Linked DNA regions of Homo sapiens. The protein of the gene in region 5 purifies or fractionates together with the protein of the main gene of each other region. This does not show direct contact. Each region holds a gene or a part of one and is shown on either strand. Other genes may lie near its edges. The genes, in order: DHRS2, ZYG11B, AP3M1, CAMKV, AP3S1, AGO3 and AGK.

The links.
Region 1: the proteins of AP3S1 (region 5) and DHRS2 purify together in Homo sapiens (affinity purification with mass spectrometry; 2 studies listed by BioGRID and IntAct, with this or other methods). This does not show direct contact.
Region 2: the proteins of AP3S1 (region 5) and ZYG11B purify together in Homo sapiens (affinity purification with mass spectrometry; 2 studies listed by BioGRID and IntAct, with this or other methods). This does not show direct contact.
Region 3: the proteins of AP3S1 (region 5) and AP3M1 purify together in Homo sapiens (co-immunoprecipitation; 5 studies listed by BioGRID and IntAct, with this or other methods). This does not show direct contact.
Region 4: the proteins of AP3S1 (region 5) and CAMKV purify together in Homo sapiens (co-immunoprecipitation; one large-scale study listed by IntAct). This does not show direct contact.
Region 6: the proteins of AP3S1 (region 5) and AGO3 purify together in Homo sapiens (affinity purification with mass spectrometry; 3 studies listed by BioGRID and IntAct, with this or other methods). This does not show direct contact.
Region 7: the proteins of AP3S1 (region 5) and AGK purify together in Homo sapiens (affinity purification with mass spectrometry; 2 studies listed by BioGRID and IntAct, with this or other methods). This does not show direct contact.

The regions. Positions count from the first base shown.
Region 1 is NC_000014.9:23,639,159-23,643,176, reverse strand, and holds part of DHRS2 (dehydrogenase/reductase SDR family member 2, mitochondrial), read right to left. Parts: intron 3,999-4,018; coding exon 3,821-3,998; intron 3,384-3,820; coding exon 3,282-3,383; intron 2,903-3,281; exon of another isoform or gene 2,746-2,902; intron 1,956-2,745; exon of another isoform or gene 1,530-1,955; intron 1,512-1,529; coding exon of another isoform or gene 1,485-1,511; exon of another isoform or gene 739-1,484; intron 26-738; coding exon 1-25. UniProt on the Homo sapiens protein: NADPH-dependent oxidoreductase which catalyzes the reduction of dicarbonyl compounds. Displays reductase activity in vitro with 3,4-hexanedione, 2,3-heptanedione and 1-phenyl-1,2-propanedione as substrates.
Region 2 is NC_000001.11:52,816,343-52,820,472, reverse strand, and holds part of ZYG11B (protein zyg-11 homolog B), read right to left. Parts: intron 3,942-4,130; coding exon 3,844-3,941; intron 1-3,843. UniProt on the Homo sapiens protein: Serves as substrate adapter subunit in the E3 ubiquitin ligase complex ZYG11B-CUL2-Elongin BC. Acts to target substrates bearing N-terminal degrons for proteasomal degradation with the first four residues of substrates being the key recognition elements.
Region 3 is NC_000010.11:74,126,277-74,130,406, forward strand, and holds part of AP3M1 (AP-3 complex subunit mu-1), read right to left. Parts: intron 3,717-4,130; coding exon 3,631-3,716; intron 2,966-3,630; coding exon 2,832-2,965; intron 80-2,831; coding exon 1-79. UniProt on the Homo sapiens protein: Part of the AP-3 complex, an adaptor-related complex which is not clathrin-associated. The complex is associated with the Golgi region as well as more peripheral structures.
Region 4 is NC_000003.12:49,863,128-49,867,257, forward strand, and holds part of CAMKV (caM kinase-like vesicle-associated protein), read right to left. Parts: intron 534-4,130; exon of another isoform or gene 248-533; intron 1-247. UniProt on the Homo sapiens protein: Does not appear to have detectable kinase activity.
Region 5 is NC_000005.10:115,869,081-115,873,210, reverse strand, and holds part of AP3S1 (AP-3 complex subunit sigma-1), read right to left. Parts: intron 3,195-4,130; coding exon 3,083-3,194; intron 1-3,082. UniProt on the Homo sapiens protein: Part of the AP-3 complex, an adaptor-related complex which is not clathrin-associated. The complex is associated with the Golgi region as well as more peripheral structures.
Region 6 is NC_000001.11:36,066,633-36,070,210, reverse strand, and holds part of AGO3 (protein argonaute-3), read right to left. Parts: 3' UTR 1-3,578.
Region 7 is NC_000007.14:141,549,514-141,554,268, reverse strand, and holds the start of AGK (acylglycerol kinase, mitochondrial isoform 1 precursor), read right to left. Parts: upstream 2,860-4,755; 5' UTR 2,835-2,859; exon of another isoform or gene 2,651-2,834; intron 2,586-2,650; exon of another isoform or gene 1-2,585. UniProt on the Homo sapiens protein: Lipid kinase that can phosphorylate both monoacylglycerol and diacylglycerol to form lysophosphatidic acid (LPA) and phosphatidic acid (PA), respectively. Does not phosphorylate sphingosine. Phosphorylates ceramide.

The DNA.
Region 1 (4,018 bases), on a different chromosome or scaffold from region 5:
GGGACTTCACGTTCACACTTAGGATCTGAAATCAGAGCAGAGCATGGGTGAGGGCAGAGAGACATGGTCAGCCCAAGTCCTGCTCTCATAAGACACTTGGAGCCCTGTAATTTGTGCAGTAGACCCAATGTATGTGCATATAAGAGAAACCAATCCCCCTTCTGACTGGTGCAAGAGGTATTTCCAATTTGCTAATGGTTTCATAGGCAGGCAGGCTAAGTCACAGGCCTGTGAGCAGAGCCCTGAAAATGTGAATTGTTCAGGACTGACACGAGGAAGGAAATGTTCAGGCCTTTTAAAGAAAATGGGGACTGGGGGCAGTGGGTCATGCCTGTAATCTCAGCACTTTAGGAGGCCAAGGTGGGAGGATTACTCAAGGCCAAAAGTTCAAGACCAGCCTGAGCAACATAGTGAGACCTTGTCTCTACAAGATTTTTAAATAATTGGCCTGGTGTGGTGGTGCACACCTATAATCCTAGCTACTCAGGAGGCTGAGGCAGGAGGATCCCTTAAGCCCAGGAGTTTGAAGCTGCAGTGTGCCATGATCATGCCACTGCACTCCAGCCTGGGTGACAGAGTGAGACCCTGTCTCTTAAAAAGAAAACAACAACACACTGTAAGCAGAGGCCTCTGGAGAAAGACTGAAGACAGCCTGATGGAGGGGAAGCAGGTGCTAGAAGCAAGGGAGATTTCTGGAAGAGCCTTTTTTGTCTCTCTGAGCTTTCATTTGCTTGTCCTCTTACCTTGTCCCCATAGAATTTAAGGCATACTCACAATGCAACAGCATAAAATAAATCAAATAGGTACTATGTGTGAAGAAATGGAGAAAAGGAAAAATCAGTGTAGAAAAATAAGAAAAAGCAAGAGTGAGGTTGGTGCCTACAGTTCACAGCATGTGATAAGGACTGAGCATTTATTCTATTATTTGGTCATAAAAATGCAGGCTGTAAGGGCCTACACACACCAGCTTATCGCAGACTTGGCTCTGAGCTTTCCTGCAGCCAATACAAACAGGGAGACACAACAGAGAATTGCCATGCTGGGAGCTAGATGTCTATGCTGATCCTGCTTGTGACTAAAGTCTGAATCTGGGCTAAGTCACACATGTCCTGACACTCTGGAAGCTCTGTCTGGTGGGTCTGGGAACGGGGGAGAAGTGAAAGAGGAAGTAGCAAGGAAAGATGCAGAGGCGGAGCCTGGGAGCTAGGGCAGTGCCAGGTGGGACTGACATGGCACCAGGAGTCCCTCCTGCAGGGATCTGTCCTGATTCAGGTCAGCTGCATCCTGCATCTCTAGGGAATGAGACCACATCTGCAACTCACCAGGACTGTTCACTGTTTTTTCCACCCCCCAATCTCACTCCCACTCAATCCCTTGGATGTGGGAAGGAGAAATACTTAAGCTGAATGTTGCTGTGGCCCATTTGATGACAGGTTACCAGTGTGGGGGATGACCCCCAATGACTGCAAGAAGTGGTCCAGATGTCAGAAGTGGGTACCACCCTGAGGTCCCTAATAAGAAGGAATTGAGGATTAGGTTAGCTGTAAGGGTTTCCTGGTCAAAACAGACCCCAACCAGCCCACAGGATATCTGTCCAATACTCCATGTGCATCAGGCTGAGTGAGGGGCTGAGGTAAGACCCCTCCTGGACTCAGGAACAAAAACCAAGCCAAAGAAAAGGTGAGACTCCCTCCCTTGATGAAGAAAACTGCCCCATTAGAAAGTAAGAGAGAGTAGCTCAGTGTGCCAAGTAGTTCTGAGCAGAGAACTATCCATGAGCCTGAAAGAGGGCGCACGCTGGAGTCGCTGGAGAAGGATGGAGGTGATGTGGTTTTGGTAGTTTAACAGATCAGAGGTTTCCCAACCTGCTGGAAAGAAGGGGGGTCTGCCTGGAGATGGCCTCAAAACTGGCTCAAGAATAAGATGAGTGGTAAGGAATTCTCCTTACAGGACACCTACGGAAAACACATTTAGTTGAAAGCAGAGCATCTGGTAAATTCTAAACTCATTTTGTGACAATTTCACCTCTGAGGTGATGGCAGATGTGATCGGGGACGAGTCATCAATGATTTCTGTCCAGTGGTACAGAATTGCTCACTGAAGGCCAAGTCCTTGGAGAACAGGGGAGAATCAGAGAAAGTAAGGTCAGATTGTTGGCATCTGCCCTCAGCTTCAGGAGGGAGGACTGCAACAGTTTCGAGAAAAAGAGTCATGATCCTGTGAACTGAGACACTAAACAGCAAAATGATTCAGGAGGGTTAGGAGACTGTCAGCAATAAAATCCCAGCTATAAAATCACAAATGATCCTTTGGAGGCATTAACAACATAGCTAAAGAGCCTGGGGAAGCTGCTCAGCAGGGGCTGCAGGGAGCTCAAATTTCAGATCATCTCTGAGGATGTAGCCAAGGGCACCCAGCCAAGGGCAGATAGAAGGGAGGGGCCAGCCTGAAGATGATGTTGGCAAGTGAGAGTGCAGGATCTAGGGAAGGCAGAACACTCTAAGGCCAGAAGGCAGGAAACACTTTGACCCAGTGCTTAGGGCAGAGTGGTGAATGCTCACAATAGCAGAAAGAATGAGATTCATCACGACGCATTCTGGCAGAGAGAACAGAAAACAAAACATGAGAGTGAAGGGAACAGAAGTCACTGGGGAACAACTAGGCCCAAGATGAGCTTCAAGGCATTTTACAAGGTCTCTCCCGGTCCCTTGTGGACAAGGTAGCAGAATCCTTGAATGGACTTACAGCAGGCTGGGATGTCTAAGCCCCCGGAATGCTGATGGCTGGATCTGGTCCTGTCGGCAAGTTTGTGTGGGACTCAGTGAGGAGCCCCCTTCTAGGAGAGACAGTCTCCGCTACAGGCACAGGTCACCAAAGAAAAACACAGTATCCGTATCTTCCCCTACAAAAGGGTGTACCATACAAAAATGTTTGACTCTTACAGAGAGACTCTGACTAACCATTCACAGCTGTATCCCTAGAGCCTGGAATAGTGGTGCCTGGCAGACAGCAATAAATACCTGCTGAATGATTAAATGAAAAAGTGATGAGAAGAGAAAACAAAGCAGAAAGTGTGGGGGCCAGATTTAAGAACCAACAAGCCAGAAAGTAGCATCCGGGCACATTTTGGGAGACAGCTGGCCAGGCAGGACTACCACCCAGGGCCTGCTTCTCCCATAACCTCTGGAGGGAAACAGAGTCTTGGTGGGCACAGGCATGCTGGAGCCCAGTGCAGAGCTGGAATCGGGCCCTCAGCCGCCTCCCCAGGGGAGGCCTCTCACCTTGTCCCAGATCTGCTCACTGGTCCCCAGAGTGCTCCCTACCAGAGGGTTGACCCCTGCGCTGCACACCAGGAAGTCGACGCCCCCACAGTGCTCCAGGGCCTGCGGAGAGGAGATTGGATGAGTGTGGAGATGGCCTGAGGAGGACTATCCCTCCCAGGGCAGCCCAGGTCATAAGGCCTTCAGGCAAAGCTTGCAGAGCTCCTAAAGGAAAATGACCTAGGTGTCCCAAGGGCAGGCTCCTGGGGCCAGGCACTGAGAGAGGAAGGTCTGCTCCAGGAGTCCCTCTGGGGACCTCCCTCACCCCTTCAGACTCCTCCTCCACAGTGATTCTCCCCGGGCCTGGGGGTGGGGTGAGGGTCCTCTCACGAACAGGTCACTTTCCTGAGGGACCTTCTGGGTAGCGAGGTTAGCTTGGGCAGCCTGGGTGCAGTCATGGTCTCAGGACATATTCTAGACCCACCCCACAAGGGCCAAGCAGTGAAGGAAAGGTTCTGCATGTTCCCCTCTCTGTGTCCTTCCACCGCCTGCCCCCTCACCTTGGCCACCAGCTGCTCCCGGTCCTCAGCCTTCCCCACGTGGCACACAATGCCCGCCACACTCAGCCCCTCCCCCTGCAGCTTGGCCATGGCCCGGTCCACGTTCTGCTGCTTCCGGCTGCTGATGACCACGTGGGCCCCGTCCCGGGCCAGACGTCGGGCGATGGCAAAGCCGATCCTGAATGCAGAGATGGAGGG
Region 2 (4,130 bases), on a different chromosome or scaffold from region 5:
GTTTTACCACGCTGGCCAGTCCAGTCTCAAACTCCTGACCTTAAGTGATCTGCCTGCCTCAGCCTCCCAAAGTGCTGGGGTTACAGGTGTGAGCCACCACACCCAGCCACATTAAAACATTTTAATACAAATAGAAGTGAATTCCATTTAAATATAAACAAAATAAGCCCACAAGGTAGGAACCTAAACTATCTGAGTTGGAGACAAAATATTCTAATATTCCCCAAATTACAGTGCATTTTAGAATAAATTATTCAGGGGCTGGGCGTGGTGGCTCACACCTGTAATCCCAGCAGTTTGGGAGGCCGAGGCGAGCAGATAACGAGGTCAGGAGATCGAGACCATCCTGGCTAACGTGGTGAAACCCCGTCTCTACTAAAAATACAAAAAAATTAGCCAGGCGTGGTGGCAGGCGCCTATAGTCCCAGCTACTTGGAAGGCTGAGGCAGGAGAATGGCGTGAAGTGGGAGGCGGAGCTTGCAGTGAGCCGAGATCATGCCACTGCACTCTAGCCTGGACGACAGCAAGACTCCGTCTCAAAAAAAAAATAAAATAAAATAAAATAAATTATTCAGGGCTGTCATTCCATAGAGTAAAACCTAAATAACTCTAATACCTAAAAGTAGTGACAAAAATAAATACTCATATGAAAATGCACTATTATTATTATTATTATTATTTTTTTTTCAGACAGAGTCTCACTCTGTCGCCCAGGCTGAAGTGCAGTGGTGCGATCTCGGCTCACTGTAACCTCCACCTCCCAGTTCAAGTGATTTTCCTGCCTCAGCCTCCCTAGTAGCTGAGAGTACAGATGTGTGCCACAACCCACAGCTAATTTTTTGTATTTTTAGTAGAGATGGGGTTTCACCATGTTAGCCAGGATGGTCTCGATCTCCTGACTTCGTGATCCACCCGCCTTGGCCTCCGAAAGTGCTGGGAATACAGGCGTGAGCCACCATGCCCAGCCAAAAATGCACTATTATTTACTTATTATGTTTTATTTTCTCCTACTGAGCTGTGAAAGGTCCATTCCTTGAGTTATGAGGAAAGGAACCTATAGATTAGAGACTGGGAATATGATGGGATCAACTGTTAAGAAATTTGGGAGTCCTCAGAACCTGTGGGTACAGTAAAAAGAAAACGACTTTAGGGCAGAGACAGTTTAATGTAGCTAAAGAGGCAGTTTTCGATTTATGAGTGAACAACTCTGCTTCTGGGTAATGTAGTAGGAAGGACCGGATAAGCCTCCAGGTGGGAGTTCAGGTGGGTACAAGGCAGTTTTCTCGGTCACATCCCATTCATTGAATTATTCTTCTTTATCTGACACAGAAGAGCTTTTACTGCATTGCCTTTTTGTGGTATGCAGTGAGTTTTCATCAAACAATACAAGAGAAGGAGCTGGGTGCGGTGGCTCATGCCTGTAATCCCAGCACTTTGAGAGGCCAAGGCGGGTGAGTTCGAGACCAGTCTGGCCAAAATTGTGAAACCCAGCCTCTACTAAAAATACAAAAATTAGCTGGGCATGGTGGCGTGTTCCTGTAGTCCCAGTTACTCGGGAGGCTGAGGTAGGAGAAATGCTTGAATCTGGGAGGTGTAGGTTGTGGTGAGCTGAGATCGTGTCACTGCACTCCAGCCTGGGCAACAGAGTGAGACTCCGTCTCCAAAAAAAAAAAAAAAACCCAAGCGAAAATCTCACTAAATGTTACTACTTCTGCTATAAGGATATTAGTAAAAACAACTCTCACATATCCTATATAAGGCCCTTTATAGTATGTCCCCTATTAAGGTCCAATAGAAGAAATTTAATTCATAGTTAACTTCTCATAAAAAATTCTCTCCCCTCCCCATCTCCCCTGACAAGGATATGGAATGTTTCCCTCTTATATGGAGAACCATGTCGCTTTTTACTTGCAGCAGAGCCACAAAAATCCCTATGCATGGCCTACAAGTCTACATTTGACTATTTTCCCTCTATCCTAGAATTTTTTTTTTTCTTTTTGAGACAGAGTCTCACTCTGTCACCCAGGCCAGAGTGCATGGTGCCATCACAGCTCACTGCAGCCTTGCTTTCTGGGCTCAGATGATGCTGCCACCTCAGCCTCCCAAGTAGCTGGGACTACAGGAGCACACCACAACACCTGGCTAATTTCTTTTACATCTTTTATAGAAACTAGGTTTCGCCATGTTGCCCAGGCTGGTCTCAAACTCCCGGGCTCAAGCGATCCACTCACCTCAACTTCAGAAAATGCTGGGATTATAGGGATGAGCCATTATGCCCGGCCCCTATAATTTTTGAAAAATTATTTTTCCTTACTTCTAATTAAAACTAAAAGTAGGCCAGGCACAGTGGCTCACACCTGTAAGCCCAGCACTTTGGGAGGCCGAGGTCGGTGGATCACCTGAGGTCAGGGGTTCAAGATCAGCCCAGCCAAAATGGTGAAACCCTGTCTCTACTAAAAATACGAAAATTAGCCAGGTGTGGTGGTGCAGGCCTATAGTCCCAGCTACTCTGGAGGTTGAGGCAAGAGAATCGCTTGAACCTGGGAGGTGGAGGGTGTGGTGAGCCGAGATCGCACCACTGCACTCCAGCCTGGGTGACAAAGTGAGACTCCATCTCAAAAAAAAAAAAAAAAAAAAAAAAAAAAAAAAAAAAAAAATATATATATATATATATATATATATATATATATATATACACATATATATACACACTTTACTATTAAAGTGGTTCTGTGTATTTCTTGTGTCAAATCATTTGTGGAATGAGTTTATATTAATAAATAATTAGGCCACGCTTGATGGCTGACGCCTGTAATGCCAGCACTTTGGGAGGAAGAGGCAGGCAGATCGTTCGAGCCTAGGAGTTTGACACCAGCCTGGCCAACATGATGAAACCCCATCTCTACAAAAAATACAAAAAAAAGCCAGGTATGGTGACGTGCACTTGTAGTCCTAGCTACAAGCTGAGGCAGGAGGATCATCTGAGCCTGGACGTCAAGGTTGCAGTGAGCTGTTACTATGCCACTGCACTCCAGCTCCAGTGATAGAGACAGACCTTGTCTCTAAATAAATAAATAAGAGTTACATCGTAGCTTTCAAAGAATAATATAGAACCTGATTCAAACACTTTGCTTCTTCAGAAACCATGGGTGCTGGCAGCGACATCTTGAACAACAGAATTTTGGGTGAATGAGAATTGGGCACCGGAATGTACCATAAACAGTGGATCTACTTAAGACCTTTTACTCAACAAATGGACTCACTGTAGTCTCCTAATCTTTAAATTCCTTGAGGTGAGAACAGTGTCTCATTCACCACTATTATTCAGTGTCTAGTTACACCATGCTCATTCTGAAAGAATACCTTAAGTTGGCCGGGCACAGTGGCTTATGCCTGTAATCCCAGCACTTTGGGAGGCTTAGGCGGGCGGATCACCTGAGGTCAGGAGTTTGAGACCAGCCTGGCCAACATGGTGAAACCCCGTCTCTACTAAAAAAAAATAATAATAATACAAAAATTAGCCGGGCATGGTGGCAGGTGCCTGATATCTCAGCTACTCGGGAGGCTGAGGCAGGAGAATCGCTTGAACCCAGGAGGCGGAGGTTCCAGTGAGCCGAGATCGCGCCACTGTACTCCAGCCTGGGGAACAAGAGCGAGACTTCGTCTCAAAAAAAAAAAAAAAAAAAAAAAAAGAATACCTTAAGTTTATAACCTAAGATGGCCTTACATTTTAAGTCAGTGTTCTTAAAAATCACTTTAATACACAATTTAGAAATATCTTTCCTGGGAAATGAGAATTTCACTTAAAGAAAAAAAACACAGTTCTTTTTTTTTGGTACATACGATTCTTGCTGCAGACATGTTGCATGGCCCAAACTGCCCATAGCTGAACTCCTGGTGTTGTGAAACAGCCAAGTAATGGGAAAAATGGATTAAAGGACCTAAAGGTTCAAAAGAAAAGAATCAAAGTTACATCCCATATTTAGCGTAATTTCCTAAAGCAGTGATTCCTAAACTTTTCATTTTCAAAATTTTATCCTATTATATTTAGACTAATATAAATGAGCTATAGAATATCATTTCTTTGTCTTAACCATTTCAGAGAAGACTGCATTCAGACATGACTCAGT
Region 3 (4,130 bases), on a different chromosome or scaffold from region 5:
TGTTATATCAAATCTGCCGCAAGAACTGTTCTCCTTAAAGCTGATACTATGTTTCACATACACTGGTATTGCCACTAGACTAAAAAGAGAAACAGAGAAAGATACAAAAGCACAAACACAATTAATGGTGTGGGGAGAGCTCCAGAGGTATCCTGAAAACCTCTGTCCAGAGTATCCTACCCTGCCTTTAACTCCACAATAAGGTACTACAGAGTTGGCTCTCTGTAGCCACAGTTCTGCATCCTTGAATTTGACCAGCTGAGGATTGAAAATATTATTTCACAAAATTGGCCAGGCGTGGTGGCTCATGCCTGTAATCCCAGCACTTTGGGAGGCCGAGACCAGGGTTGGGAGGGGATCACCTGAGGTCAGGAGTTTGAGACCAGCCTGGCCAACATGATGAAACCTCGTCTCTACAAAAATTAGCTAGGGCTGGGCGCGGTGGCTCACACCTGTAATCTCAGTACTTTGGGAGGCTGAGGTGAGGAGTTCAAGACCAGCCTGGCCAACATGGTGAAACCTCGTCTCTACTAAAAATACAAAAATTAGCTGGGTGTGGTGGCTCATGCCTGTAGTCCCAGCTATTTGGAAGCCTGAGGCAGGAGAATCGCTTGAACCTGGGAAGCGGAGATTGCAGTGAGCTGAGATCGTGCCACTGCACTCCAGCCTGGGCAAAGGAGCGAGACGCCATCTCAAAAAAAAAAAAAAAAAAAAAAAAAAAAAAAGTAAAAAATAACAATATAACTACAATAAAAATAAAAAGTCAACATGGTATAACAATTATTTACACAGTGTTTACAGTGTACTATCACAAGTAACTTGGAGATGATTTAAAGTATACAGGAGGATGTGCATAGGTTATATGCAAATACTACACCATTTTATGTAAGGGACTCGAGCATCTGCTGATTTTTGCAACCAGTCCTCCAAGGATACCAAGATGGCAGTACCTCTAGAACTGCAGATTCAGTATCTACACAAGGGGGAGCTGAGTACAGCATAATGTTCTTGTACCACTGTGCTGGGAACTGTATACAAATCAAGACAGAAATCTGAAGTTTAATAACAGTATAAACAATTGGGGTGGCTGGGTGCAGTGGCTCACACCTGTAATCCCAGCACTTTGGGAGGCCAAGGCAGGCAGATCACTGGAGGTCAGGAGTTTGAGACCAGCCTGGCCAACATGGTGAAATCCCCTCTCTAATAAAAAAAAAAAATAACAAAAAACAAAAATTAGCTGGGCGCGGTGGCAGGTGCCTGTAATCCCAGCTACTTGGGAGGCTGAGGCAGGAGAATCGCTTGAACCCAGGAGGTAGAGGTTGCAGTGAGCCAAGATCACACCATTGCACTCCAGCCTGGGTGACAATAGTGAAACTCCGTCTCAAAACAAACAAACAAAACAAAATAACATAAAACAAACAAACAAAAACAATTGGGGCAAATGGCCCTAGTTTAAAATGAATTATGATCCCACTGAAAAATAATGTAAAATATGTTTTATATAAATGAAAACAGTTCCTATGTGATAAGAGCCAAGAAACAGGCCAGGCACGGTGGCTCACGCCTGTAATCCCAGCACTTTGGGAGGCTGAGGTGGGCAGATCACCTGAGGTCTGGAGTTCGAGACCAGTCTGACCAACATGGAATAACCCCGCCTCTACTAAAAACACAAAATTAGCCGGGTGTGGTGGTGCATGCCTGTAATCCCAGCTACTTGGGAGGCCGAGGCAGGAGAATCACTTGAACCCTGGAGGTGGAGGTTGCAGTAAGCCGAGATTTCACCATTGCACTCCAGCCTGAGCAACAAGAGCCAAACTCCGGCTTAAAAAAAAAAAAAAAAAAAAAAAAGGAAAAGAAAAGAGCCGAGAAATAATTTCTCTGTTTTTGAGTTCTGTCATGATGTTACTCAAATAACTTTTGGTATTTTCAAGAAACAAACTACCTATAACTCCGATCCCCAATGCTAAATTTTTTTTTTTTTTGAGATGGAGTTTTACCCTGTTGGCCAGGCTGTAGTGCAGTGGTGTGATCTGTCACTGCAACCTCTGCCTTCCAGGTTCAAGTGATTCTCATGCCTCAGCCTCCTAAGTAGTTGAGATTATATAGGCACACGCTACCACGCCTGGCTAATTTTGTGTTTTTAGTAGAGACAGGGTTTCACCATGTTGACCAGACTGGTCTAGAACTCTTGACCCCAAGTGATCTGCCCACATTGGCCTCCCAAAGTGTTGGGATTACAGGAGTGAACCACTGCACCCGGCCCCTCAATGCTAAACAGTTCCTTAAAAACTCAACGCAGAGAAGACGTACTTGAAGCAGGTAAATTGGGGAATGTCCTCACGAACTACAGGTAGGTCTGTCTCCTTGTTGGCCACAAACTCTACAGACTATGGTAAGATTATGGCAATGGTTCATGGTTTTGCCCAGGTTATGCATGGTCCGTTTTGCTCTGCTTGCAAAGTACTCAGCTTTCAGAAGCAGAGCAAAATGGACCATGCATAACCTGAGCAAAGAACCAGTGCCATAATTTGACCATGCATAACCTTGCAAAGGACCGGTACCACAATTTTTGCCCAGGTTATGTATGGTTTGCTTGTTCTTGGCTATAGATTTTACTCTAGTCTCACTTAGTACCACTCTACACTCATACATTCAAAGTATACGGATTATTTTAGGTGCGTATTTTCACCCGTTCTCACTGGGTCTCCTGGTGAGCTATGGTTAAAGTGAGCAGTGATGACCTCAAGTACTCAACTTTCAGAAAGAAACAGGGAAAGGTGAGTTGTACTTGATATGTATGATGGCAGATTCTGGCTGATGCATCAACATACTTTTGTGAGCTGACACGGTATGATATGAGTCGGAAATTTCCATCTGGAGGAATAAATGACAAAACTCTTTCAGATTCCCAACGCTTGAACCGGATGCAGGGGTGAAAGCTGACATCATCCAGAAGCCTAGGGTTCTGCCAGAAAAACAGAAGACAGTCGTTCATAGACTATAATGAATATGGGAACTGTACTCAGATACCTTGACAAATATGTTCCCTGAAGATAAAGCAGTCATGGAAGAGTTTATGACCACATCTACACAACCTTATAGTTTCATAATGCTTTAAAGTTTGTAAATATTTTATGTACATTATTTTATTTGAATTTCAATAACTATAAAGGAGAAAAGGCAAGTAGTATTATTTCCCTTTAACAGATTAAAAAACTGAGGTTCAGAGGACTTAAGGTCAGAGCAAACTGGTGACAACACCAGAAGTCAGTTCTCTTAATTGTTCCTAGCAGTATATCATGCTGACTCTAAAATGATACAAAAGACCAGTGTCCTTTCATATCAGCAAAGCAAATAATTATTCAGTAAAAATGATACTGGATATTTGCAGAAGCCAGCCAGCCAATTTTAAGCCCCTTCTAGCACACTCAGGCAAAGACCTCCCTTAGTCTTTCCACAAAGACCACGCTCATCATGTAAGCGACTGTCTTAGGAAACTCTGCTAGGAATATTTCTGAGATAATCCTTTGCAATCTAAGATGCAAACTTATCTCAATATTTATCATTTCATTTAGTACTTCACATGTATTAGGCATTCAAGGGGCTATAAAACAGGAGAATAAAACTTACCATGAAAGAAAGGGAGAGATCAGGCATTCCAGATAGTTTAATGCAAGCATCAATGACCCCCTGAATTTCTGCAAAGACTGTAGATCCTGAAGAAAGAAAAAAAAAAGGAAGATAACATCAATGGAATATGAGTCTTCACTAGACCTATCACTGTATCTTTTTATTTTTATTTATTGTTTTTAGAGACAGAGTCTTGCTCTGTTGCCAAGGTTGGAGTGCAGTTGTATGATCATAGCTCACTGCAGCCTCACTCCTGGGCTCAAGTAATCCTCCTGCCCTAGCCTCCCAAATAGCTGGGAATATAGGTGCGTGCCATGACACCTAGCCCAACAATCACTACATCTAGAACAATAGAGATACCCTCTGGGTGTCAGATTAACTGAAGCTTTACATCTCTATTAACAGGTCAGGGGACAAGGTCCATACTTAACTCTGGCTGGAATATAATAATAATTCTTTTATTTTTAAGAGATAAAGTCTGACTAGCTAGTCCCAGCTGG
Region 4 (4,130 bases), on a different chromosome or scaffold from region 5:
AGTGCAAAAAGACACAAAAGAATACATATAGTATGAGTCTATTGATAGAGTTCAAACAGGCAGAACAAACCCGTAAGGGGGATACAAACACAGCAGTAGAGCTATAAAGAAAAGCTAGGAAATAAGCAGAGTCAGATAATGGTCCCTTCTAAGAGAAAAGGAGGGGTTATGATTGATTCAGGACACATGGGGGGATTCTGGAAGACCTATTTCTTTTCTTTTCTTTTCTTTCTTTCTTTCTTTTTTTAGAGACAAGTCTCACTATGTTGCCCAGGCTGGAGTGCAGTGGCTATTCATGGGCACAAGCCCACTACTGATCAGCACAGGAGTTTTGACCTGCTTCGTCTCTGACCTTGGTTGCTTCACCCCTCCTTTAGGCAACCTGATGAGCTCTAGCTCCCAGGAAGTCACCATACTAATGCCAAACTTAGTGTAGACACCCAACTGGCATAGCGCACTGCAGCCCAGAGCTCCTGAACTCAAACGATCCTCCCACCGCAGCTGGGATTACAGGCACCCGCACCATGCCCAGCTGTTCTGTCACCCAGGCTGGAATGCAGTGGCACCCAGGCTGGAATGCAGTGGAATGATCACAGCTCATTCCAGCCTCAACCTCCTGGGCTCAAGCGATCCTCCCACCTCAGCCTCCTGAGTAGCTAGGACTGGACCATAGGTGCACACCACCACAACTGGCTAATTTTTAAAAATTTTTTTGTAGATACAGGATTTCATTACGTTGCCCAGGCTGTTCTTGAACTCCTGGGCTCAAGTGATCCTCCCACCTCAGCTTCCCAAAGTGCTGGGATTACAGGCATGAGCCACCATACCTGGCTTGGGTAAATTTTTTAAAGTTTACATACTGATGTACCCTCACAAACTCTTTTCTGGAAGAATACTGAAGGAAATAAGAGTTCTCTCCTGGGCAAAGAATTGGATGTCAAAAAGGCAGACATATCTTTTGTTTACTAATTTTCTGTGCGAATTTTTACTATTTTACTATAATGACTTCGATGAATTTAGTAAATACTGCACTCAGGCACAGTGCTTGGGGGATTCCTCAGAGGGATAATCTGGGTGGAGAGGCAAGGTAAAGCTTTGGAGGCAGCATTAGGACTCAGTAGGAAAAGATTTGCCAGGAGGTATGCAGGTGTACTGGTCAGGAAGAGCAAAACAAGCCTGATCCTGGTCCCAGCTTTCGGCTCTGCATATGCATTCATGCCCACTGGGGCCCACAGGGGACCTGGGCTGTCAGGTCCAGGTGCAAGGCCCCCAAACAGAACAGATATAGCTGGCTCAGTGAGCGCTAGGCACTCTTTCCACCTGGGGCACGGTGTCCCACAGGTCTGCAATCCTGCCAATTACAGCCCAATCCTCATCTGTAGTGCTAGGGGGGCTGACTCCAGTGTCCAAAGGAAAAGGCACTCATAGCCCATGCTCAAAGCTGGGGGTGGGGGGTTACTGACTAGACCTTCACAGATCTGACGCCAGGGTGTGCCTCCATAATACCCGGTCAGTGTGACACTGGGGCTACAGCAAGCTCTGCACTGAGGCTGCGCTGAAATTGCTCTGCCTCTGCTGACTGTGCATGTTTTCCCTCCATGCCAATTAGCACTTGCTGTGTGCAGGGCCTGAGCTAGGGCCTGGGGGTACCTAGATGCTCCCCGACCTGAAGGCACTCACAGCCTCAAGGTAGTGGAGAAGGGAGGAGGCAAAGGAGGCAGCTTGGCAAGATGAACTCTGCCAGCCAAAGTCAAAGACCAGGACCCAAACGAGCCCCATAGCCAACCCTGGCTGCTACTTGCTTCCTCCCAGGCAGAAGCCAGCCACCAGGCTGTGATTCCCAGGAGTCACAGCCCTGGAAATTCTCCCTCAGATTTGCCTTCAGCATTAGGGAACAAACTCTATCATTCCTTCATCTGGGTTGCTTGGGCTCAGGGAATACAAATGCATTTCATCAGCATTATTCCAGACAGGGTTTAAGCCATCTTGCGAGGCACAGCAGAGACAAAGGAGAGGCTTTGAAGATCGTCACTGACTGCATGTCTGCCACCATGGGCACAACCCTGCACTCCTCCACTGGGGAGAAGCATGTGGCCAGAATCCCATCCTCACAGCTGAGAGCAGAGGCATAGCCAGTTACCATTGCCGGCTACACATTTTCACACCATAACAGCTGCAGGAGGGGGCCTGCAACAGTCATCTCAGTCTGAGGGCCGTGTACTGGGCAGGAGGATGGTACCTTAGCCTGCAGTCTCCCAAGAAGGCTGGGAGGGACCTGTGCCCTGGCTCTGTTGCTTTGCTTACACCATTCCCTCTGGCAAGAGTGCCCTTCCCCCAAAAGCCTCCCGTCAGATTCCTATTTGTCACGGCAGAGTTATTTATAACATTAAAAAAAATTCAGCAACTACCTAAATGTCCAACAACAGGTGACTCGCCAGCTCAACTGTGTCCACTCAATGGTAGGAAGTGTGGGCACTGGCAAGAGCTCTGCCCACCTTGGCTTTCCTGTGGAGCAGCTGCCACATGAGCGAGGTGCTGAGAGCAGAACTGAATCTCTTCTTTCATTGTGATTTCTGACATTATAAGGTGGTTTGTGCAACACATTGTCCAAAACAATCCTGATGCTCGAAGGCCAGACTCAAAATGGCCCTTTTCTGAGATACCTTCCACAACCTCCATGCCCCACCCCCCACCCCACTCCAACAGCTCCCAGCTTTGCCAGTGTGGCGTGGGTGGGAGGTTTTGTGCATGCCTGTCCTTGATCCTGGCCCCAGCTTTCGGCTCTGCATATGCATTCGTGCCCACTGAGGTCCAGGGCTGGTCATGGGGGTCTGTCCCATGAAAGGCACAGAAAACTGGGCCTCCACCCCGTAATGTCAGCCTGGAGCCATGTCCTGAAGCCTCAAGGCTGAGATGGGAACAGATCTGTCTCCCCTGCCCCCTACTATGGCTGCCCAAATTTCAGCCAGTCACTCCTCCTCCTCCTCCTCCTCACCAGTCTAAGTATACTGGCTTGGGGCCCTGGACTTGGCCCCAGGGCAAAGAGAGGAGAAAGAGGGGCCTGGCTTTCAATTAGCACCTTGGTTCCCTCTGCCCACACCCACTCCACCATCTGCTATCCACTGTTGCTCCCTGGGAGGTTTCGGGTGTGTGCACCAAGCCCTGGGCACCTGCTTGCAACAAAGGAGACCTGGGAGGAACAGCCAAGGGACAGCTCTCAGAAAGAGAGGAGGCCAAGTGGAAGGGGTTTGTATTTTTCACCCCCATGGCCCAGACCCAACACCCAACAATGGAGAGCTCTCCTCTCAGCAACACAGGATCTGAGCTCTTCCTCAGGTACACTTAGGCCATGGAAGGGCATGGGAGCTCCACAACAGCCATTTCCCTGGAGACATGGCTCCCTCCACTCTCTGCAGAGGAACTGAACAGTATGCACTACCGGCTGCCCAGAGGGAGCTTGTGGGGAGTGCAGGCCCTGGTGCGGCCATTGCCCTCCAGCTGGCTCTCATGGAGCCTGAGAGCCAAGCACTCCCCAGTTATGGCCTGCTCCCAGGGCCTGACCACTGGACTCAGGGAATTGAGCCTCCAGCAATCCTGAGGGGTCCTCTGTTGGTGCCCTGGTGATAAATGGTCCCCCAGGGACTCTGCTGCATCTTTAGGTAAGTCTGGCCCAGGGAAAGCCCAAACGGGACAAAGGCCAAGAGGTCCGGAGGCCCCACATTGGGGTCCTGTCCCCTCCTCCGCTGAGATCATCCTGGTTCAGGCCCTACCTTTCATAGACATAAACAGAGTTTCCTGCTACCTTGGTCCCCTGCCACGTGGGGCTCCAGAGCTTGCAGTAAATCTAGGGAGGCCAGGAGGGGCCCAAGAGGCCTCCAGCTGCCTCCCAACAACTGTAGGCAACACCTCCTAATTTAGTGGCAGCTGTGAACACCAGCCTGCAGGCACCCCCTCCTCTCTGCTGCTCTACTCTCTCAAGGGCTGGGGCTGGGTTTCCTGCTGCAATGAACATGCTGAAGCCCAAGCCCTGCTTAACTCACAGCTGAGGTGTCACCCACAGGACCAGGGGAGCTGAAGACCTCCCTCAAGGTCTGTTAAGAACAAGGGCCAAGCTTCTAGACCACCATCCA
Region 5 (4,130 bases):
CCCCTTTGGAGATAGAACTACTTTCTCATAAGAAGATCAACAACAGCATCAAAATAATAATCAATGGTGATGACTTAATCTCAGGACGCAAGCATAAAATACTTCTGATTTACCTCTAGGAAAAGACACATTTGTTTTGGTCTTTCTTAATAGCAACATTTCTCTTCAATAAGAGACTAAATTTGAAATGGTACACTTTCTCCTGTTTTTCTTCCTGTAATTCTAGTGGCTAGGCTCAGGTAAATAAAAACAGTGTTTTGGAACATAGTGTGCATGTCTACCACTCTCTTCAGTCATGGGAAACAGAGAAATAGAAAGCATGGTTCTATATTAATTTTTTTTCTGTAAAAATATAATGCTCTCTTGACATAATGATAAAATGAATTAACTACTCCCCTAGGTGGGATAAACTAAGAAATGTAAGAATAAACAAAGTTACAAGGCAATGCAATATATAGTCCTGATCAACCCTTCAATGTCATCAAAAGTAAGATTTGGCTTCTTTTTCTTTACTAGAAAAGCCTTGAGAAAGCAAAACATAACTCAGCAGTGTTTCTCAAGTAGGCCCCAGGAGGAAAGTGAACATATACCCAAGGGATCTTGGGGCACCTTTACCTCAAGCTCAAAATTTCTTTCAAGTCTCCACTTAGAGCTTTAAATATTATGAAAAATTTGTATTCTACCTCATAATATATACATGTTTACGTTCATTTCCTCACTGCCGCCAATCTTCAAAACAAAGAAGAAACATATACCAGGAATATGTGCCATGATTACCTTGTGGTTTCATGTAACTTTGATACCCAGCTCCTCCCAAAAACCCAGTTTAAGAATTACAGATTTAAGAGTAATATGGCATACAAATAGATCAATTTATCATTTATCTCCTTTTTTATTTTATTAACAATGTTTTTATTTCTATTTTTTTTGAGACAGGGTCTCACTCTGTTACCTGGGCTGGAGTGAGTGGCACAATCTCAGCTCACTACAAGCCATCCTCCCTGGCTCCCGCCTCAGCCTCCCAAGTGATTGGGACGACAGGTGCAGAACAGCATGCCTGTCTAATTTTTGTAGAGATGGGGTTGCCCAGGCTGGTCTCGAACTCCTGGGCTCAAGTGATCTGCTCAGCTTAGCCTTCCAAAGTGCTAGGATTACAGGTGTGAACTACCACACCTGGCCACAATGTTTTTATTTTTAAAGCCTTAGCCACAGTGCTAAGAATTTGTTACCTAAGTTGTCTGCTTGGGTTAATTTCTTGTCTATTCTGTAACGCCAACTAGAGCTCAAACCATGCCACCTTCTTGCTAACTTCAAAAGCCAATTTTATCTGTGCACTGGGAAGCAAGGTGCTAGAAGTGCTAGATATTTTAGGAGAGAGGAGACTGTATGAGTAGTCATCTAGAGGTATGGGAGAGTAAATGGACCGGGGAAACAGAAAATGATTCTTGCGTAGCATAAAGGACTCAATGAGCTAAGGGATCATTAATTTAAAGTGAGACTGGTAAATATGGTTACTTTTTTTTTTCCTCTAGGTATGTTCAGATGTATGGGTGTGGGCAAGGAGTTCAGTGTACACAAGGCTATATCACTACCATGATTATGAAATTTAAGCTGGATAAGGAAAGTAAGACATCAGTAAAATCAGAGTGAAAAAAATGATGGATTTTTAAAACTGAGGGTTGCAATAGGTCTAACGACTTCAAAACTGTGAAATTGAGATTATGGAGGGGTTACAGTTTAGACAAAGATAAAATCTAGAAATGGGTACATAGTGAGATGGAGTGGAGGGCAAAATTTATTGGAAGAGAGGAGTTCCAGATTTTGAAGACACCAGGATATTGGGAGAATTATACATATGAACAATGGAATCACCAAGAATTACAAAACAAGCAGTACTGGAATGAATGCCAGGGAACCAAGAACCAAAATCTATTAGGAGACAATTTTAGATGGATCTTGTGTTTCCACACGTATTGTGAGCAGAGGCATTGACTGTCTTTGTTCTGGGCTATCTTTTTAAGCATGCTTGTATATCAAACAGCCCTGGAAAATAGACAGTGTCTTCTTCCACAGCAAAGGATAGGTTTCCTTACACTCTTGGAAGAGACAGTCTTCCTTCCAAACAAGGGCAGACATGCTTAGTATCCATTATAAAAGATTCCAGTTCCCTAAACTTGGCGTTCCTCATCTGTCATTTAATCCACTGTGTGTGCAGGTATCATCTGGACCTCTTCATATCACCCTTTGGGAATTAGAGAATTCGTGCAAGCAAATGCTGTCACTTTAGCTAATGTTTTTGCTATTAGTAATAAGGTCCTTTGTCTCTGGCCCAGAAATCTCCTGCCTTCTGCCAGCATCCATGAAATTATGGCAGGTTAACTTCTTAGTTTGCAAGTAGAGCAAATCTCAGACCCTTCACAATTCTTAACAAAATCTCCAATGAAGGAGAGATGGAGATGAGTGATGACTATAACTAAATGGATAGAAGGTGGTATAGTCTGATAACATAAGATAAAATTTGGAGGTGTTTGAGAAGAAAGAATGGTCTGGAAAATGCAATGAGAAGCTAAGATTACACCTCCAGGCTCAAAGGCAGAAAGAAGCAGGAGAGAAAATGGCCACTACTTCAAAGGGTTGCACGTAGTATCATCAGGGAAGCAAGATTTAATTTAGAGCAAAATGTAAAGTAATATTAACAGAAGAGGCTGAAGATAAAAAGAAATTTGCTGATGACTGACCTTGAGTTCCAGGGACATTATGAAAGATTTTCAGGAGACAGGGAGAGGTAGGGTTTAGGGTTAGTTTTGGATACATGTGTTAAGAAACCCACGAGTCTTAAGCTCCTTGCTGTAACTTACATGAGCAAGATAAAATGTCATGATTAAACTAGTTATGATAGTTTTAATCAGATCAAATGTTTGCTTGTTTCTATGTCCTCTGACCTCTTTTACCAACACAATATCTATTATGAAATGCTTTATTTCTTACTAACATCATTTTAGAAAATTTAGAATATATAAGTTTTTAAAAATTTAAATGTCAAACTGTTATTTAAGATAGTAAGAAGCAAGTGTTAACTTACTTGAATTAGATCTAAAATGCCAAGTTCACTTTCTGAAGAATCCACACAGAAGACAAAATATAACGTTGCATAATGTCTATAAATCAGTTTGTTGTCAGATCCTCCAATTAATCTAAATGACAAAAAAATTGTAATGTTATTGGAAACAAAATGCGAATCATTTTCATTAGCTCAAGCAAACTGACAATTTGTTTAAAAACCACTTGTCAAATGAAAGGTGACATTCAATGGCAAAGTATTTAAGTGAACTTATTCAGAGACTAGGTGAATTAAGGTGGCTGTTTTCTTCAGAAACATCAAGTAAAAGAAGCCAGTGCTTAATTTCAGTTCATTCATTCATTAAACTATTCTCTGAGTAACTACTATGTGCCAAGCACTGGTAGTGGGGAAGAAGCAACAAACACACACATCAGAACATCATCAGATAGTGGCAAGTGTTACACTGACAATCAAAATACAATGATGATATATTGATGGGTTCCCTACTTCAGGCTGAATATTAAGCAAGAGTGGCATTTAAGCTGAGATCTAATGATAAGGAGTTGGCTTGGAAAAAATTTAGAGAAGAGCATTTCAGGCTAAGGTAGTAAGTACTAAAAGGACATTTCATCAAGAACAAAGTATGTATGTTCAGGGAAGAGAAAAAAGGCCAGTAGATAAGAAAAGATTAGTAAATGATAAAGTCAGAGAAGTAGGCGGAAATTAGATCATGGGGCATTTGTAAGTGCTTACTAGATTTAACTCCATACGTCACAGTAAGTTACACAGCTTAAGACTGATTATCAACCAGAAAAAAAAGAAGAATGACACTTCTTAAGTTTTGGATAGATTTACCGTCAAGATCTCTTCCAAAATTACATTGTTTTGACATAAATGCAAGAAAACTGAGCTAAGATACTAAACTCTTTCATGAAATACTTTTATTTATAATGACTGGAATTTTAGTATTTTAGAAATAATAATTTAGGAATCATTCCAAACATATTTTTCTAAATATAGTTTAGCTATTTCATAGTTAAGTTTACAATAATGAATTCACCTTCTTAAA
Region 6 (3,578 bases), on a different chromosome or scaffold from region 5:
AAAGAAAGGTACCAAAAATCGGCCAAGAAACAGGGAATAACCATCTAGTTGTACAATAGCCTCTGATGCTAACATGTAGCAAAAGTGCCTGAAGGCAAAGGCGAAGTTAATTTCTAAGTATTTGTATTTTATTATTATTATTTTTTTTTTTATTGAGACAGAGCTTCGCTTTGTTGCCCAGGCTGGAGTGCAGTGGCACAATCTTGGCTCACTGCAACCTCTGCCACCTGGGTCCAAGCAATTCTCCCACCTTAGCCTCCCGAGTAGCTGGGATTACAGGCACCCTCCATCGTGCCCAGCTAATTTTTGTATCTTTAGTAGAGACGGGGTTTTGCCATGTTGGCCAGGCTGGTCTCGAACTCCTGACCTCAAGTGATCCACCTACCTCGGCCTCCCAAAGTGCTGGGATTACAGGCATGAGCCACCGCACCCAGTCAATTTCTAAGTATTTGATGGTTTTCACCACATTAATCTAACTCAAAACTGCAGCTGCCATAGCACCACTAAAATCATTTGGTTTTTGAAAAGTTATGCTTTTGCCAAGGATTATTATAAAGAAAAATTCAGCCTGTGTGCTGGATATCTTGCAGGGAAGAAACAACAGGATATGTTTGTAAGTGAACACTACACCATGATAAGGCCTATGTTTCTCTTATTCCTATTTCATAAAATGATCTACAACAAAGACATTTTCACAGAGGCAAACTGGAAAGGAATCCTTCACACAACACTCTTCTATTATCTTGAACGTCTGAATAGCTTTTCCTTTGGAGAACTCAAATGCTTCCGCAAACATTATCTTATTCTTACAACAATTTAGTGATCATGCCTATAATCCCAGCACTTTGGGTGGCTGAGGCAGGAGGACTGCTTGAGCTCAGGAGTTAGAGATCAGCCTTGGCAACATGTGAGACCCCATCTCTGCAATAAAAGAAAATAATTAGCTGGGTGTGGTGGCATGTACCTCTAGTCCCAGCTACTTGGGAGGCTGAAGCAGGAGGATAGTTTGGGCCCAGGAGTTGGAGGCTGTAGTGAGCTATGATCACACTACTGTAGTTCAGCCTGGGCAACAGAGTGAGACCCTGACTCAGAACAAAAGAACTCCAACAATTTAGTGAGGTAGGTGAGGACAGGTATTACCACTCTTATTTACAAGGGGAAACTAGGCACACAGAGATTAAACGAATTGCCTAAGGACACGGAGCAAATCAGTGGGAGACCTATTACTAAATTCCAAGTCTCTGGCTCATATTCTAGAGCCCTTTCTACTCTCAAAGGCAATAAATTCTCAATAGGCTTTTTCCATTTGTGATCTTTCAAAAGTTCCTCCATTAAAGAACACCTTAAGCCTTCTCTCTTATAGCCCACGCTTGACTAGGAACTGGGATGAGTTTTAAACTATTTTTACACAATATTTTGCACATATCAAGAAGGCAGATGTGAGACATAAGCTGTATAATAAAGTCAGAATAAATACATAAATTAAGAGAAATGAACAGGTTAAGTATTAATTCATTCAATATAATTTTTTACATATTTTAGAAGCCATGTATCAGAATAAAAGTCATAACATTTTAAAGTTTAAATCAGAGTCCAATTTATCAAAACCATAAGCTATATTAATTTTCTTTAAGAATATGAGGATCTCTGTTGGTTGGCAGAAGGTTAGAATATTACTTTCAAGAATAATTCTTATTTATTTATTTATTTTAAAGATTGGGGTCTTGCTGTATTGCCCAGGCTTGCTTTAAACTCCTGGGCTCAACTATCCTCCTGCCTCATCCTCCTGAGAAGTTCGGACTACAGGTGCAAACCACCACATCTGGCTAATATCAACAATAATATTATCACTGTGCCATAATACATCATATTCCTGATATATACTCTGTTCACATTAGCATTCTATAGCCAGCAAAAAATTCCATGGCTAGAGATAATACTTGCAACATTAATACTTTCAATCTTAATTCTCACTTAACTGAGTTAGAATTTCTCTTCATATATGTTAAAGTTACATTGTAATAATCATCATTCTATCTATTTTTGTTTTATCCTTCCCCTCTTTTATTTTTAACAGTGTGTGTGTTTGTGTGTGAGTGTGTGTGATGGGGAAAAAAGAACAATTGTGTGATTCACAAATGGCATAAAACACTGATTGTATTACAAATAAGAATGGTGGCACTCTAGTAAGTAAGATAATGGAATGTCAAAGGAAACAAACTTTAGAATACAAACATGGAAAACATGCTAAAATATTAATCAAGCTATAGCTTGTGGCATGTGATTCTTCTTTCCCAAGTATTTTGAGAGTGTCATTTACCCCCAGTAGAATTCTATATCAACTGCCTCTAAGTCCTTTTCCTATTCCTTCTTTTTTTTTTTTTTGAGACGGAGTCTCACTCTGCCACCCAGGCTGGAGTGCAATGGTGGGATCTCGGCTCACTGCAACCTCCGCCTCCTGGGTTCCAGACTACCTTGTCTGGAAAGGCCCTGCTTGGTGTTTTCTATTTAAAGGGGAAAACCAAACATGTTATGTTGATAGCAATGCCTGGCTCTATTAAAGATAAATCCTTCATTTAATTTCCTTATTGTAATTCAGACTAGCAGGATTCTCCTGCCTCAGCCTCAGGCGCCTGCCACCACGCCTAGCTAATTTTGTATTTTTAGTAGAGACAGGGTTTCACCATATTGGCCACGCTGGTCTCAAACTCCTGACCTTGTGATCCACCTGCCTTGGCCTCCCAAAGTGCTGGGATTGCAGGCATGAGCCACTGCTCCCGGCCTATTCTTTCTTTTTTAAAGAGGGAATGGGGTTGGACCCTGGGCTAAGAAATGAGAAAGCTCCTGGAAAACCTTAATTGCAATTAATTACTATAGAAGATCAAGTCTGTTGCTAGCAAAACCAAAGCTTCCTTTTGTTAAACTCCCTGGGATCAAACTGTATCCATGAACTGGGTCGGACTGTCTATGCCAAAATTCTTTCTTCATTACAAACTAACCAGTGTTTTTACCAAATCCCACACCAAAACCATTTTCTTTACAGGAAAGACTACATTGTCTGGAAAGGCCCTGCTTGGTGTTTTCTATTTAAAGGGGAAAACCAAAGACACTATGTTGATAGCAATGCCTGGCCCTATTTAAGGATAAAGACTTCATTTAATTTCTTTACTGTAATTCAGAAGCAACTTCCAAGACTTCTCTAAGTTACTGAGAATAGGTGTGCCTTTGGGTCTGGGACAACATTATCATATAAATTTAGATTACAGAGACGCTCGTCTTAGGTCTCTTCTGTAGGTTCAAATAGCAATAGCTGCTCTTTTACTCTGCAAATATTAAACAATTGTAAGGTTTCTGTCCAAGGATCCCAGCAAGGAAGCCTTATCCTAAATCCCCCCTCACTATATATTCTCACAATCCTACTAGTCTATTTCTTTACAAAGACCTCCAGTTTCTACAGATTCTGACAATAAAGAGTCACGTATGCAACATTTTTGCAGTCTTTCCTTCTTTGGTTCTAAAAAGACTATTAAAGGACTAACTTAAGAGATTTTTGTTTGTTTTCCCAACCAAAAATGAAA
Region 7 (4,755 bases), on a different chromosome or scaffold from region 5:
CCCAAACAAATCTCCTGCCTCAGCCTCCCAAGTAGCTGGGACCACAGGCACATACCACTACACTTGGCTAATTTTTTTCTTTCCTTTTTTTGTTAGAGACAAGGTCTCACTATGTTGCCCAGGCTGGTCTCAAACTCCTGGCCTCAAGCAATCCTCCCGCCTTGGCCATCCAAATTGCTGGGATTACAGACGTGAGCCACTGCACCTGGCTCAAAAACGAAATTTTAAAGTAGATCCCTCTAGGTTGTGGAATGGTGGGTGATGTTTATTTTTAAAATTGCAATGTACTTTCTAAGTTTTTGAAAATGAACTTATTTTCTAGATAAACAAAAATTTAAGCAAAATTTTTTTATGACTATCTGTTAGTGAGGTATATAGACCAAGAAAAAAAAAACTGTTTCCACTTAAAAGTCCAGTTCTTTTATGACTCCCTTTAAATCCCATTGGTTAAAATTCCTCTCAAGGGTAGAAACATCCTTATCAAAAGCAGCAGTGAAGCCAGTGCCAGGGAGACCATCTTCCTGTGAATCCCATACACCGTCAGGCTGACACATGATTCCAAAGGCCCAACTAATTCTTGAACTCCTCTCCATCTGGCCCTAAATCACTCCTTCATTCAAGAGCCCTTTAATAAACACCTATATGGTAGGCTCTGTGCTGGGGGTGAGGGCAGAGAAGAATGGGTCTCATGCGTTCTCTCAAGTGCTCACAACTGTCAAACCCACAATGCTAACACAATTATACAATTATGATTGCAGTACAGTGGGATAAATGTCGAGGAGTCAGCACAAGGCTTTGTGAGAGTCTGCAAGAATGAACCTAACCTGGTCTAGGGCTGAGGGGGTGGTGCACAGTCAATGAAGTCTTCCCTGAGCCTTGAATAATGAGGAGGAAATCACTAAAGTAACGAAGGAGTTTTGTGGATGCTATTGTCTGAATGCTGTGTTCCCCAAAAATGGTGATGTGGAAGCCCTATCCCCATTGAGATGGTATTAGGAGATAGAGCCTTCGGGAGATAATTGGGTCATAAGAGTGGCTCCCATGAAAGGGATTAGTGTCCTTATGAGACTAGACACTACAGAGATGGTCTCTCTGCATTGTGAGGATACAGCAAGAAGACAGATCTCTACAAACCGAGGAAGAGAGCTATCACCATGCACTCAACCATGCTGGCACCTTAACTTTGGACTTCCAGCCTCCGGAACTGTGAGAATTAAATTTCTGTTGTTTAAGCCACCCAGTTTTTGCTATTTTTTTTTTACAGTAGCCCAAACTGAGAGTGTACAAAGGCATAAAAGACAGTAAAGTGTGTTGAGAGAAACATACGTAGATAGTTGAGGGGAGAATTAGGTTCATGGCTGAGACTGGAAAAAGGGGGTATGATCTAACAGTAATACGCTGGGGAGAATTTAGCAAGGCCTATTTGTTCTGATTCTTCTCTGTGTACCTGTGTCTTCAAAGATAAGGGCATTCCTTTCCTCGATCCTATACTTACAGGATGAGCACCTCTCACTGAAGGGTCTTATACAGAAGAAGGTCAAACAATTCTTTTATGGCCTGCTTCAGGGGAGAAAAGTGGGAAGACACAAAGTGACTTTCCTGCTTCAGTTGTTTCCTCTAATGCCAACGAGTCATATTTTGCGGCAGTGTGTCCTGAATCTCATCAACAGCGGAGTAAAAATTGGAGTGTCTAGAACAGGGGTTCTCAACCTTTAGTGCAGAACTTGTTAAAAACACAGAATCCTGGGAACTGCCCCTTCCCGCAAGAGTCTCATTTGTTCTGGAATTAAGCTGTCATCTTCACTTGTTAACAAGTACTCCCATGTTGGTTGCAATGGAGGTCACCACTATACCAGACTTTGAGAAACAGTGGTTTAGAGATAAAGGATTGAAGACCAGGTGGGATTAGAAAAGACCTTGAACCCACACTAAGGACTTTGGCTATTATTTTGAAGACAATGAAAAACCTTTAATGGGCTTTAAGCAGGTGAGTGATATAATCATATTTGAACTGTTAAAAGACCACTTTATAGCAGAATGAAAAATGAACTGGAAGAAGCTAAAATTAAAGCTAAAGAGAACCATTAGGAAGTTATTGCCATAATCTGTAGGCTCCTAAAAGAACAAACCAAGATAAAGGATGGATTTGGAAAGCTTTAGAAAGTAGAAATTGGCAGCAGTTGGTGGTCCATTGACTGTAGTAAGTGAGAGAGGAGGAACCAAGCCAGGTTTTTGTGCTTGGGTGACTGGTTGAATAGTGATTTCAGTCATTTAGATTTGAGTGGTAGGTTTGTGGAGAAAAGTAGTGCGGTTTAGGAGATACTGAATTTGACACGCCTGTGGAGTATCCAGGTGGAAATGTTTTTCTTACTAGATAGTGAACCCCTCATGGGCAAGTTCGTCTATCCATCTGCAGCACCAGAACCTAGTAAAGCGCCAGAATGAATGAACCAACCAACCCATCAATGGATCTGATACTATTGGCCCCATTTTGCAAAGGGCTATGCTGAAGCCCAAGGGACGAAGTGAGGGGGGTCCACAAGTTAGCGACAGCTCTGGGACTCGAACCCAGGACAGCTGACTCCCGCCGTGACCACGGGATCCGCGCGAGGCCCTCCCCTGCCGCGCCGGCCAGGCCCGCACCCCCTACCCTCAAGCCGCGCCGCCGCCTGCACCCACGACCCCTGATGCTTGGGTCCCCGCGGCTCTCGGCCCAGCGCGACTCCAGAGGCTCCGCCCAGCGCCCCGGGCCCCCATCCCGACTCCCACCCCGCTCGCGCGCTCAGTCCCAGCGACCCGCACTGCGCTCCCCGCCTGGGCGCCGCTGCACTCACCACGGCTGGTCCAGCTCGCGGCTCTGCCTTTCCTGTGTGCTCCCTCCAGATTCCCCGGCTCGTTCAAGGGAAACCGCTGCCGCCGCCCTCGGGTTCCGCCGCGGGGCTGCGAGCGCGCGCGGGCCAGTTCGGGCCGGGGGCGGGAACCGGCTCGGATGCTCAGGGACGGTGGGGGTGGCAGGGCCCACCGGCTTGAGGCTGCCTTTCCCGGCGTTCCCTCGTTTATTGGCTCACTCTTCCTTTCATCCATCCATCCTTTGCGCAACAATATTTGATGGGAAGCCTGCCAAGGTAACACTGTTTTAGCACCTGGAACTAAGTCGGAAAATAAATTAACTAAATGAACAAGGCCATTGGAGATGGTGCTCCGTGCCACGAAGAAAATGAAACGAGGTGATGGAAGGCAGTGCGGGAAGGGGGAGAACTGTGTGAAATTAGGCGGCCTGCGCTAGGCCTTCTGAGTAAGGGGCCATTGGTCTGAGACCTGGATGTCAAGAAGGAGCAGCTGAAGCAAAGATCCAGGGGAGAGAGCCTGGAGAGGGAAGGGCCCGTGCAAAAGCTGAAAAGCCTGGGGCACTCTGGCGAGTTGCAGGCCAGTGTGGGTGAGACAGAGAGAGCTAAGGAGACAGGCCAAGCGAGGAAGCTGGAGAGGTGGAGACAGGCCACGGCGGCCAGGAGTTTGGACATGACATTAAACAGGGCGAGAAGACATTGCGGGGGTGCAATCAGGGGCTGGTGGGACTGGTTTCCATTTCACACAGCTCTCTGGCCACAGGTGCTTGATTGGATTCTAGAGAACAAGAGAGCAACGGAGAAGCTAGGCCAATGCCAACCTCCAGACAGTTTACATTCTGTACTCGCCCACCAGATTGGTGTGGGGACAAAGCCAGGTCCTTCTTCTTTCCAGCATTCAGTCTGCCAACTTTTTTTTTTTTTTAGACAGGGTCTCACTCTGTGGCTCAGGCGCTAGTGCAGTGGTGCAATCTCAGCTCACTGCAGCCTCTGCTTCCCGGGTTCAAGCAATTCTTGTGCCTCAGCCTCCCGAGTAACTGGGATTACAGGTGTGTGCCACCAGGCCCAGCTAAATTTTTTTGTATTTTTAGTAAAGACGGGGGTTTTGTCACGTTGGCCAGGCTGGTCTCGAACTCCTGACCTCAAGCGATCTGCCCGCCTTGGCCTCCCAAAGTGCTACGATTATAGGCATGAGCCATCGCACCCGGCCAGTCAACCAACATTTGAGTGTGCACTAGGCCCTGCATCAGGCACTGGGGGTATGCTCAGGTACAAGGCCCTTCATGGTTCCTGCCCCATGGAGCTTGCTATCTAGTCTGCACATTTCCTACGTGTAGACATGCATCCTACCTATGTCTCCCTAGGTGAATGCTTCAAAAAAAAAAGGCCGGGGCGGGGACCTTCAATGAGGCTATGGTGCAGTAAACATATTCCTTATGCCAGGGTGCACCAATCCATTGGGCCACACTGTTTAGTAGCAAGAAATTTCTAGCCCTCTCTCCTGAGTCTCCATCTGTAAACTAGGGGACTGAGAACATTACTATTAAAAAAAAACCCTTCTAGCTCTAAAATGTTGTCATAGGGTATGGAAGACCATTATTTTCAGTTCCTCTTTTCCAACTATCTAAAGCGTTTGTGTTTGGAAATAAGCTTCTGAACTGCTCACCTGCAGGCTAGAAAAATCTGAGACTTGATTTTGATGTTCCAAGGGTCAGACTCAGCGTATGCTTTAGGGCTTCAGCATGAAAGTGGTTCCCCAAATAAGAAAAGGTCAGCTTTGATGAAGGATGAAGAAGGATGGAAATATAGGAGATTAAGGGAATCTGAATACACACCTGCAGGCAGATGTGTAGGTTGGAGTTTTGGAGACCTATACCAATTCTACTCTCTTCCAAATACCATTTTACTA